3 separate regions of the Homo sapiens genome follow, and regions 1 and 2 are each linked to region 3. Evidence: fine-mapped expression QTL. A gene starts in region 3. Each other region holds a variant in brackets. All regions are shown on one strand. Distances are from middle to middle.

Region 1 (2,768 bases), 46 kb after region 3:
AAGAAGAAATAGAAAAATTGTAGCCCACTATGAGGACAAGAAATTGAATTAGTGTTTGAAATTCTTCCTACCAAGAAGCGCTCAGGCCCAGATGATCTCACTGATGAGTTTTATCAAACATGTAGCGAAGAAATACTGCCTGTTCTACACAGTGTTGTTCAGTTAGCAAAGAAGTAACACTTGTCAGCTCATTTTATGAGGCTAGTATTGCCCAGATACCAAAGTCAAAGGCATTCACAGAAGGGAAACTGCAGACCAGTATCCCTTATAAATAGACACAAAAATCCTTAACAAAACATTAACAGATTAAATCCTGCAGTATGTAAAAAGGAAAATATATCTATGTGAGGTTTATTTCGGGAATGTAAAACCCGTTTAACATCCAACAGTTGGTTAATGTAAGATAGGTCTCAAATCCAGTCACTTCTTTCTCAGTACCGCTACTGTCCTGCTCAAAGCTATCCCCGTTCTCTCTTGAATTGTTCCTTAGCCTCATTTAGTCTGTTTTCAACACAGCGTCCAAACTTACTTTAAACATCTAAGTAAGATTATGTCCCTTAGCTTACAGCCCTCTCTTTTTCCATATCCCACAAAATGCTAGCCTAAGTCCTCACAAGAACGTGTCAGGCCTTATTCATTCTGGCTGTTTTTCAGGCATTGCACCTGAGTTGATTATCCCCTCATTGTGTCTGAAATCAGTTTGTTTTCCCCGTCTTGGTGCAGTTTGTATTTTGTGTTCTTCCTACTTTTCTGGGGCCCGATAGAATTGGAAGTGGTATCACTTGATGGCTTAGGTGGCTATGTATCTTTGTTAGGGTATCTAGACTCTGTTCTGTTCTGGGTTGGTATGTGACTTGCCCTAGTGATTTTGCTACTTGGTTAATCTCATACCCATGCCCATGGAAAAATACCGTCAGTCTTTGTACTGTCTCACTCAATTCCTGGCATACTATGGAACTTTCACTGCAGAAAGGGACAGAGATGAGGGGTGGGTGTGGGTGGGGGACTTTGATCTCTTTCCTCTGATTTATCCTTTTCTCCCTCATTACACTTTCTTTCCCTCTGTCATCAGAAAAGGATAACGATGTGGCTTCTTTTCTCCCTGTTACTCGTGAATCGTAATATATTTGTCAGCTCACCTGTGTAGCTCCTGGGTGATGGGGTCAGTTTAGGAGTGAGCTGTTACGCCTCTCTGTTGTGCTCCAGAATGTTTTGTTTCTTTACCTGATGGCTGAGTTCCAAATTGTATCAGATTATGTTTCTTTCCTTGTTTGGATGTCCTGGGTGAAAAAATTTTTTTTCAACTGATTAATTCCCATTTTATCTCCCTCAATTTGTTGGTTATTGGGCAAGGTAAATTCAGAGGTGCAGCTTCTGTTGGCTTTTTTTACTCAGAAACCTTACTTAGTTGCAGTTTACTTACAGTGGCTCACACCTGTAATCCTAGCACTTTGGGAGGCCAAGGTGGATAGATCCCTTGAGGTCAGGAGTTCAAGACCAGCCTGGCCAACATGGCAAAACCTTTTTTCTACTAAAAATACAAAATTAGACAGGCGTGGTTGTGAGTGCCTGTAATCCCAGCTACTCAGGAGACTGAGGCACGAGAATCGCTTGAACGTGGGGGGTGGAGGTTATATCGAGCTGAGATTGCGCCACTACACACCAGCAAGCCTGGGTGACAGAGCGAGAACCTGGCTAAAAAAAAAA[A/C]AAAAAAAACAAAAAAAAAAAGTTAGTTCCTTATTTGCCTGTTTGTCTCACACTGCGTGATGAACCTGTTAGCTCACAAAGTGCTGATATTGCTTACATAGATACACAAACACATTTATACGATATATTCATGCAAATGAAATGTATGTACATATACGTGTCAAGTATTTGAACATATCTATTTATGTATTTTTTTCTTAAGTAATGTGTTGAACAGGGAGCTAGCATGTACTTTTTATTTCCCGTAGTGCGTATCATTAGATATAATGTATAGTAACTTTGCGCTGCATGTTTCTAAATTAATTAAAGCAAAGATGTGTATTTATTTGGCTCTCAAAGCATTGTTCCAATAATAGAGTAGAAAAATAAATGTTAAATTGGGTTTATTTTTTACTGAGATTCTTTTCTTTCTTTATCTGTAATACAGGTACATCAAGAGAGTGTACACATGATTGAAGTCACAAGTAATTTGATTAATGAAACTCTAGCAAATCACCCTGAGTGGGCAAAGTAAGAATATTGTTTTGAAAAAGAAGAGAGATGAATGGCCTAGTTTCAGCATCTGTTTGCACGAAATGACCTTCATTGATGCAGCTGCATTGGAAGATAAAAGATAGGGTTTGCCAGAGCTTTGATAAATATTGTCATTTTTGAAGAAGAATGTCATGTAATACAGAGGGTGGGAGGAAAGTGCTCAGGATTTTAGGTACAATTCATGGTAAATGATACTTTGTTTTATAATTGAGGTTTACAGCATGTTTATAATTTACAAAGCACTTCATCTGTCTTATGTCATTTGTTCCTCACAGTGACTGTGTGAGATAGATTGAAGAAATTATCCCCATTTTACACATGAGGAAACAAGATCAAAGGTTAAGGAACTTGAGATAATAATTCCGCAGTGGCAGAGTCATTTATAACCACTGCTTCTGATCAACTGAAGGAAAGTTTCCACTATAACATGGAAACTGTAACTCCTCAACTTTCTATATAATTTTTAAATTTATGTTATTTATTTATTTTTAAGAAATGAGGTCTCACCATGTTGTCCAGGCTGATCT
Region 2 (2,768 bases), 89 kb after region 3:
GGGTGACAGAGCGAGACTCTTGTCTCAAAAAAAAAAAAAAAAAAAAAAAAAAAAAAAAAAAAGGAAAAGAAATAGGACAACCAAATGCATTGCATGAGTCTGGGATAGATTTCTGGATTGGGGATGGGAGGAATATTTCTGAAACAATTGGGGAAATTTGAACATGGACCATATGTTAAATAATATATCAATGTTAAATTTGGTTTAACCAATTTAACAATGATACTTCGATAACCAATGATACAATGATAACCAGTCATAACCAATGATATTTTGGTTCTGTAGAAGAATGTCCTTTAAAGATGACGTGTCATGATGTCTGCCACTTATTTGCAAGCAGTTCCGCCAGAACTGGGAGAGGGAGAGAGGAAGTGACTGTAGCAAAATGTTAACAATTGTTGAATCTAGATGAAAGACATATGGTTGTTAATTGTACCGGCATTTCAATTTTGTGTAGGTTTATACATTTTTAAAATACAAAGTTGGGAAAAAATTATTTGGGACACCAATATAGAGTTGCAACATGTTATTTTGTAAGTACAGATATTAAAATAAAAAGTACTGTTATCTGCTGTCACCAGCATTTCATAAAATAAATTATAATGTTTGAAAATTTTTCTCAATTGTCTTATAATTTTCTTAAATTTCTTTAGGTATAATTTATATATGGTGAAATGTACATCTAAATAGCCAAATGTACCTCTAAATAGACAGGTTGATTTTTTCATGTACTCACACCCATGTAACCACTACTCATATCAAGGTATAGAATATTTTTGTTGTTCTGGAAGGCTTCTCCCTGCCTCCTCTCAGTCAGACCCCACTGCCTGCTGATACTCTAACCATAGTCACTTTTCATTAGTTTTGCCTGTTTTTGAACTTCATATAAAAGAAATCATATAGTAGGTAGGTACTCTTGAGTCAGTCCTCATTGCTCAACAGTGTATCTGTGTGATTCATTCATATTGTTGGATGTTTTTCTCTGTTCATGGTTCATTCTTGCATTGTTGTCTAATCTTCCATTACATGAATATATTACAATCTCATTTAATCATTGTAGGACTAATAGATATTTGGGTAGTTTGCAGTTTATGTCTGTTTTAATTCAAGATGCTATGAACTTTTTAAAAAAAATTTCTTATTTTGCCACGAACGTTTTTGTACATGTCTTTTGGTGGACATGCGCACAGTACTTACTGTAGTTGGACATATACCTAAAAGAGGAATGTCTGGTTATACATCTGGTTTTAAGTTTAGGTGGATACTTAAAAACAGTTTTCTATGTTATGTGCCAGAAATTACATTTTAACAACAAAAAAGAAGGACAGTCTCAGAATAAAAAGTAAAATGTTTTGAACTTTCCGGAAACTATATGGCATTCTCCTTGTTATCTGCAATTGGAAAACACTAGTTTTCCTGCCACTGGATATTCTC[G/A]TGTAATCAAGGAGTCACTGACAAGTTGGTTCTGACAATGCATTTAATGAAAATATTTTATACTTTTATGTAAAATTCTTTAACAACATGATTCTGCTTAATTTTGTTTTTAGTGTTATATTTTGTGAAGAGAGACATTGTCCTTTAACTCAGAACAAATGCAGTAAAGTCTCTGAGTTAGAGCTGGTTAGGGGGCCATTTTAGCCAATGCGTGATCCTTAGTTGATGGCAGGGGAAAATCAGTTTTTCCAAAAGAATAAAAGGAGAGGTGCTTCGGTGATTTTGACAAGGGCCTTCCCAATTTGGTGGTGGTGACACTATGATATCCTTTTCTGCCTTTGCCTCTTAAAGACAAGTGCTCAGATACCTGAGAAGCCAGCGGTGCTCGAAATCAACAGAATGCACTTGCTAACTTGAGGCTCTGTTCCATGGGCTCACCAAACACAAAGAAAAAAGATAATTGATCAATATTTTGCTGTTATTTTGAGAAAAACTTAATGATTTCAAGTTACTAAAGCAAGAGTTAGTATTTAAGGTGAAATGAAAGCAACTTAAATGAATTCTTTTAGAGGTAATAAACCTTTTTAACTCTTTGTCCTTCTAAAAGTACAAAATGCTTATGTGGCGTGGCAGAGTAGAAAAAGATAACGTGAGGACCCATATAGCCTTTGTCTTTCAAAGTTACTCATGCATGAGTTTAAAGAGTCAAATTTCTACAAAACTCAGTGAAAAATAAGGACAATAAGGACTTTGCCTTCTCCCTCTTCTTCCTTTTTCTAAGAGGAACCACTTTTTGACCCTGTATTATTTTGATATTTACCTCCATATCTTGAAGTGACGTATTTATTTCTGATTTGGTCATATATAGGCATCATCTAATAACTTCCGACTTGGAAGGTTAGAAGTTAGCTTTCACTACCCATTCCCCCAAAACAAACGGTGATACTGGTTAGATCAGTATTCAGGTTTTACATTATTATGACTTTAAATTATATTCATATTTGAGCCTTGTCATATATTCTAATATTTCTTTACCCATACGACTTTTGCTTTCTCTTGAATTAATAAAGATACTGGTTTTTATTTGCTTTGCTTTCCATGTACTTATAACTAATCCCATCTCAAGCTCTGCACCAGGCACTCACCTCTCCACTTGGTATGTTCAGTCGCACCAGGCATAGTTGGTCTTCTAAAGAAGACTGTCCTAAGTGCCCTGGTCTGCCCCAGTGGAGTGCTGTCCTTTTGGCTTGCTGTTCAGCGGTCACCTTGGGTATTCCCTCAACTCTCCCTTGCATTGGAATCCTTATTTCTTATACCCTATATAATTTTCTTTC
Region 3 (2,768 bases):
TGGAATCTGCAAGTGGTGAGCGACTAAACCTGCGTTTTGGTTATAAAACTCCAAAGGCCATCTGAAATACTGAGACCTAAAACTTACAATCGAGATGGATAGGGAATTACTTTTTCCTTTACTTCCTTTACTAAATCCCTTTGTCTCCAAATCTATCAAGCAATAGTTTCTTTATCTGCAAACTGTGGATTATGTTACCTGTCTTGTCTGCTTTAGAAGGGAAACAAAAATTATGTAGAAATTAATAGGAATACTATTGAAACAGGAAAGGGACAACTTGCAAGGTTTGAAGCAATCACATGTTGAGTACTCAGTCAAGGCTTTCTTTTTTTTTTTAAATCAAAATGTTGATTGGGATATTTTATGGGTAGCAGGCTTGGATCCCAGCACTTTTCCAATAGGGGAACAGAAGCACCTTGTACCGCCCCAGAGTTTCCCTTCCCCCACACAATAACCCTAAAGCAAAAGCTATTATTATTATCATCGCCATGTGACAGAGGAAAACTTGAGATTGGGGGCTTAACTGACATTACATCAAGTCTCAAAAAGAAACAGTGGCAGTTTGAGACTTTGATCTACGACTCTTTTAAGAGTTTAGATTGCGTCCACAGCGAAACCTGCACAAACAGTTGTCAACAGCGGCTGCAAATTACAGGCTTATGAGGAACGTTTGAAAAATGCCAAGAGTTCTTTCCTCAGGCCAAATACTATGGTAGATAAAAGTATAGCCTTTGGAGCCAGAATCCCTGAGTTTGAATCTTGCCTGTGCCACTTGGTAGCTGTGTGACTCTGGCTGCGTACTTAACGGCTCTGTCTCAGTTTTTCTGTTGGTAAAATGAGGATAATAACACCTTCTTTGTAGGGTTGTTCTAAGGATTAAATGAGTTAATAGGAGTGAGCCACTTAGAATAGGGCCTGTTATATGGTAATCTCTATTTAAAATCCTGTCAGATACACCAAAGAAAACACTTTAAAAATATCTGTTAAATAAATCAGTAAAACAGAATCGGGGCATTGGTTCTTTAAAAGTACTCCCCCACGGTATTCTAGTATGCAGCTTGGGTTTTAATATCTGAATGTGGCGCCTTTTGGGATCTCGCCTCGCGAGAAATTGACATTAACGAATGAGTGAAAGGAGCTTCCCCCCCCCCCCCCCTCCAGGAAGATATAGACCCTGCAAACTTGTTAGCAGGACCTTGCGGACACCAAGGAGGCGGAGGCGTTTTCCCCATTTCCCCTTCGGGAGTTGTAGTTTCCTGCAAGCGCTTGGTGGGTCTGTAAACCAGCGGGGAACTACAACTCCCACAATCTCGCGCGCCTCCCGCCCTGCCTCCCGCCCGCGTTTCTAGCCCGACTCCCATTACCGCCCCTCGGGGGCGGCTGTGGCGGAGGAACGATGGCCGACGGCGGCGGCCCTAAGGACGCGCCAAGCCTGCGGAGCTCTCCCGGGCCGGCGCCGCGGGTCCCGCGCGCGGTCGGGCCGAGTGGCGGTGGCGGGGAGACCCCGCGGACCGCGGCGCTGGCGCTGCGCTTCGACAAGCCCATTAAGCAGGCCTTCTACAACACCGGGGCCGTGCTGTTCGTGTGCCTGTGCTGCGGCGCCGCGGTGCTGGTCTACTTCATCCTGGAGGCCTTCCTGCGGCCGCTGCTCTGGGCCGTGCTATGCGGCACTTTTCTGCACCCCTTCAAGAGCTCGCTGACGCGCCTGGGCCGCCACTGGCTGCAGCGCCTGCACCGCGCGCACACGCCCATCGTCCTGGCCGCGCTGCTCCTGCCGCTCTGCTTCGTCGACTACGGCGTCGAGGCCCTGGGCGAGCAGGCGCTGCGCCGCCGCCGCCTGCTCCTGCTGCTCGGCGCCGGCGGCCCGCTCCTGTACGGCCTCTACTGCCTCGGCAGCTACTTGGGCGTGCAGGTGCTGCTGGTGCACGCTGCCACGCTCATCTGCCGCGGGCTGGACTACTTCAGCAGCCTGTGGGTGAGTGAGCGGCAGTCCGCCCCCGTCCCCCGCCCGTGGTCCCGGCGCTCTGGGGTGCAATCCTGCAGCTGTTCCTCCCGGTGCAGGGGCGACGAGGGGCCACACCTGTGCTGCAGTGACCGTCCGTCTCCGCTTTCCTTCTCACACCTCAGGAATTTGGCGGACATTCTTCCAAAAAGGGGGCGGGCGTGATTTGAAACAGCCTCCCTGCTTTTCGCCTTGTTTCAATCCTAATAGGCCCTCTTAGGGGGACAGTGCCCTGGATTGAGAATCGTTATTTCGCTTTGCAGAGAGAGGCCTCAGAGCATGGCAGTGGGGCTTGGTTTTACTTCTGGTTGGAGAGGGCGGGGGTGCTTCGGCCACCCTCAGTTCTGCGCATCTGAATGTCAGAGCTGGAAGGGACCTTAGAGATTCTAGGCCAACTTGCCATCCTGCAGATAGGAAAGGTGACCTCTTACCAGGCTAGGGCTACTTAGGGACAAAGAGGGGTTTGGGTGTCTTAGATTTCTTACAAGTCCTAAAACAAAGCTTGCTTCACTGGCTGGTGCTGCCTCTCAGTTCAGGTGATTCCTGTATAATTTGTGCAAGGCACTGGGTGCTGAGCTGCCTGTGCTTCTTCCTCTCCACGCTTTACTTTTAGGTAACTGCTTTTGTTGTGCAGGGACTGGTGTACCACAGCACACCTCCTCCCGCCTGGAGTAAAGCAGCTGACCGCGTGAAGGGGAGAGACGTAGATTTGTGATGCTTGGATTAACCTGAGCTTACTCTTACAAAACCAGGGAGCTTTAGAATT

Evidence for each region. PIP is the estimated chance that this variant, and not a neighbour inherited with it, causes the effect. A credible set is the group of variants that fine-mapping cannot tell apart.
Region 1: its variant is the best candidate, but not a certain one, in a credible set for the expression of TMEM245 in B cells (Schmiedel 2018, PIP 0.67).
Region 2: its variant is the best candidate, but not a certain one, in a credible set for the expression of TMEM245 in whole blood (TOPMed, PIP 0.64).

Annotation. Positions count from the first base shown.
Region 1 is chr9:109,072,805-109,075,572 of GRCh38, reverse strand. It overlaps TMEM245 (transmembrane protein 245), which reads left to right. Exons shown (of 18, transcript NM_032012.4): 9 at 2,135-2,217. Among named protein-coding and RNA genes, the nearest start is that of MIR32, 28 kb to the right of the region's middle. The variant A/C (reference allele first, on the strand shown) is at 1,708.
Region 2 is chr9:109,029,660-109,032,427 of GRCh38, reverse strand. The region is part of intron 17 of TMEM245 (transmembrane protein 245); the gene reads left to right. Among named protein-coding and RNA genes, the nearest start is that of MIR32, 15 kb to the left of the region's middle. The variant G/A (reference allele first, on the strand shown) is at 1,435.
Region 3 is chr9:109,118,542-109,121,309 of GRCh38, reverse strand. TMEM245 (transmembrane protein 245) reads left to right here and starts at 1,363. Exons shown (of 18, transcript NM_032012.4): 1 at 1,363-1,975. The coding sequence starts at 1,397. RefSeq lists silencers at 1,214-1,263, 1,404-1,573, 1,924-2,033 and an enhancer at 1,684-1,733.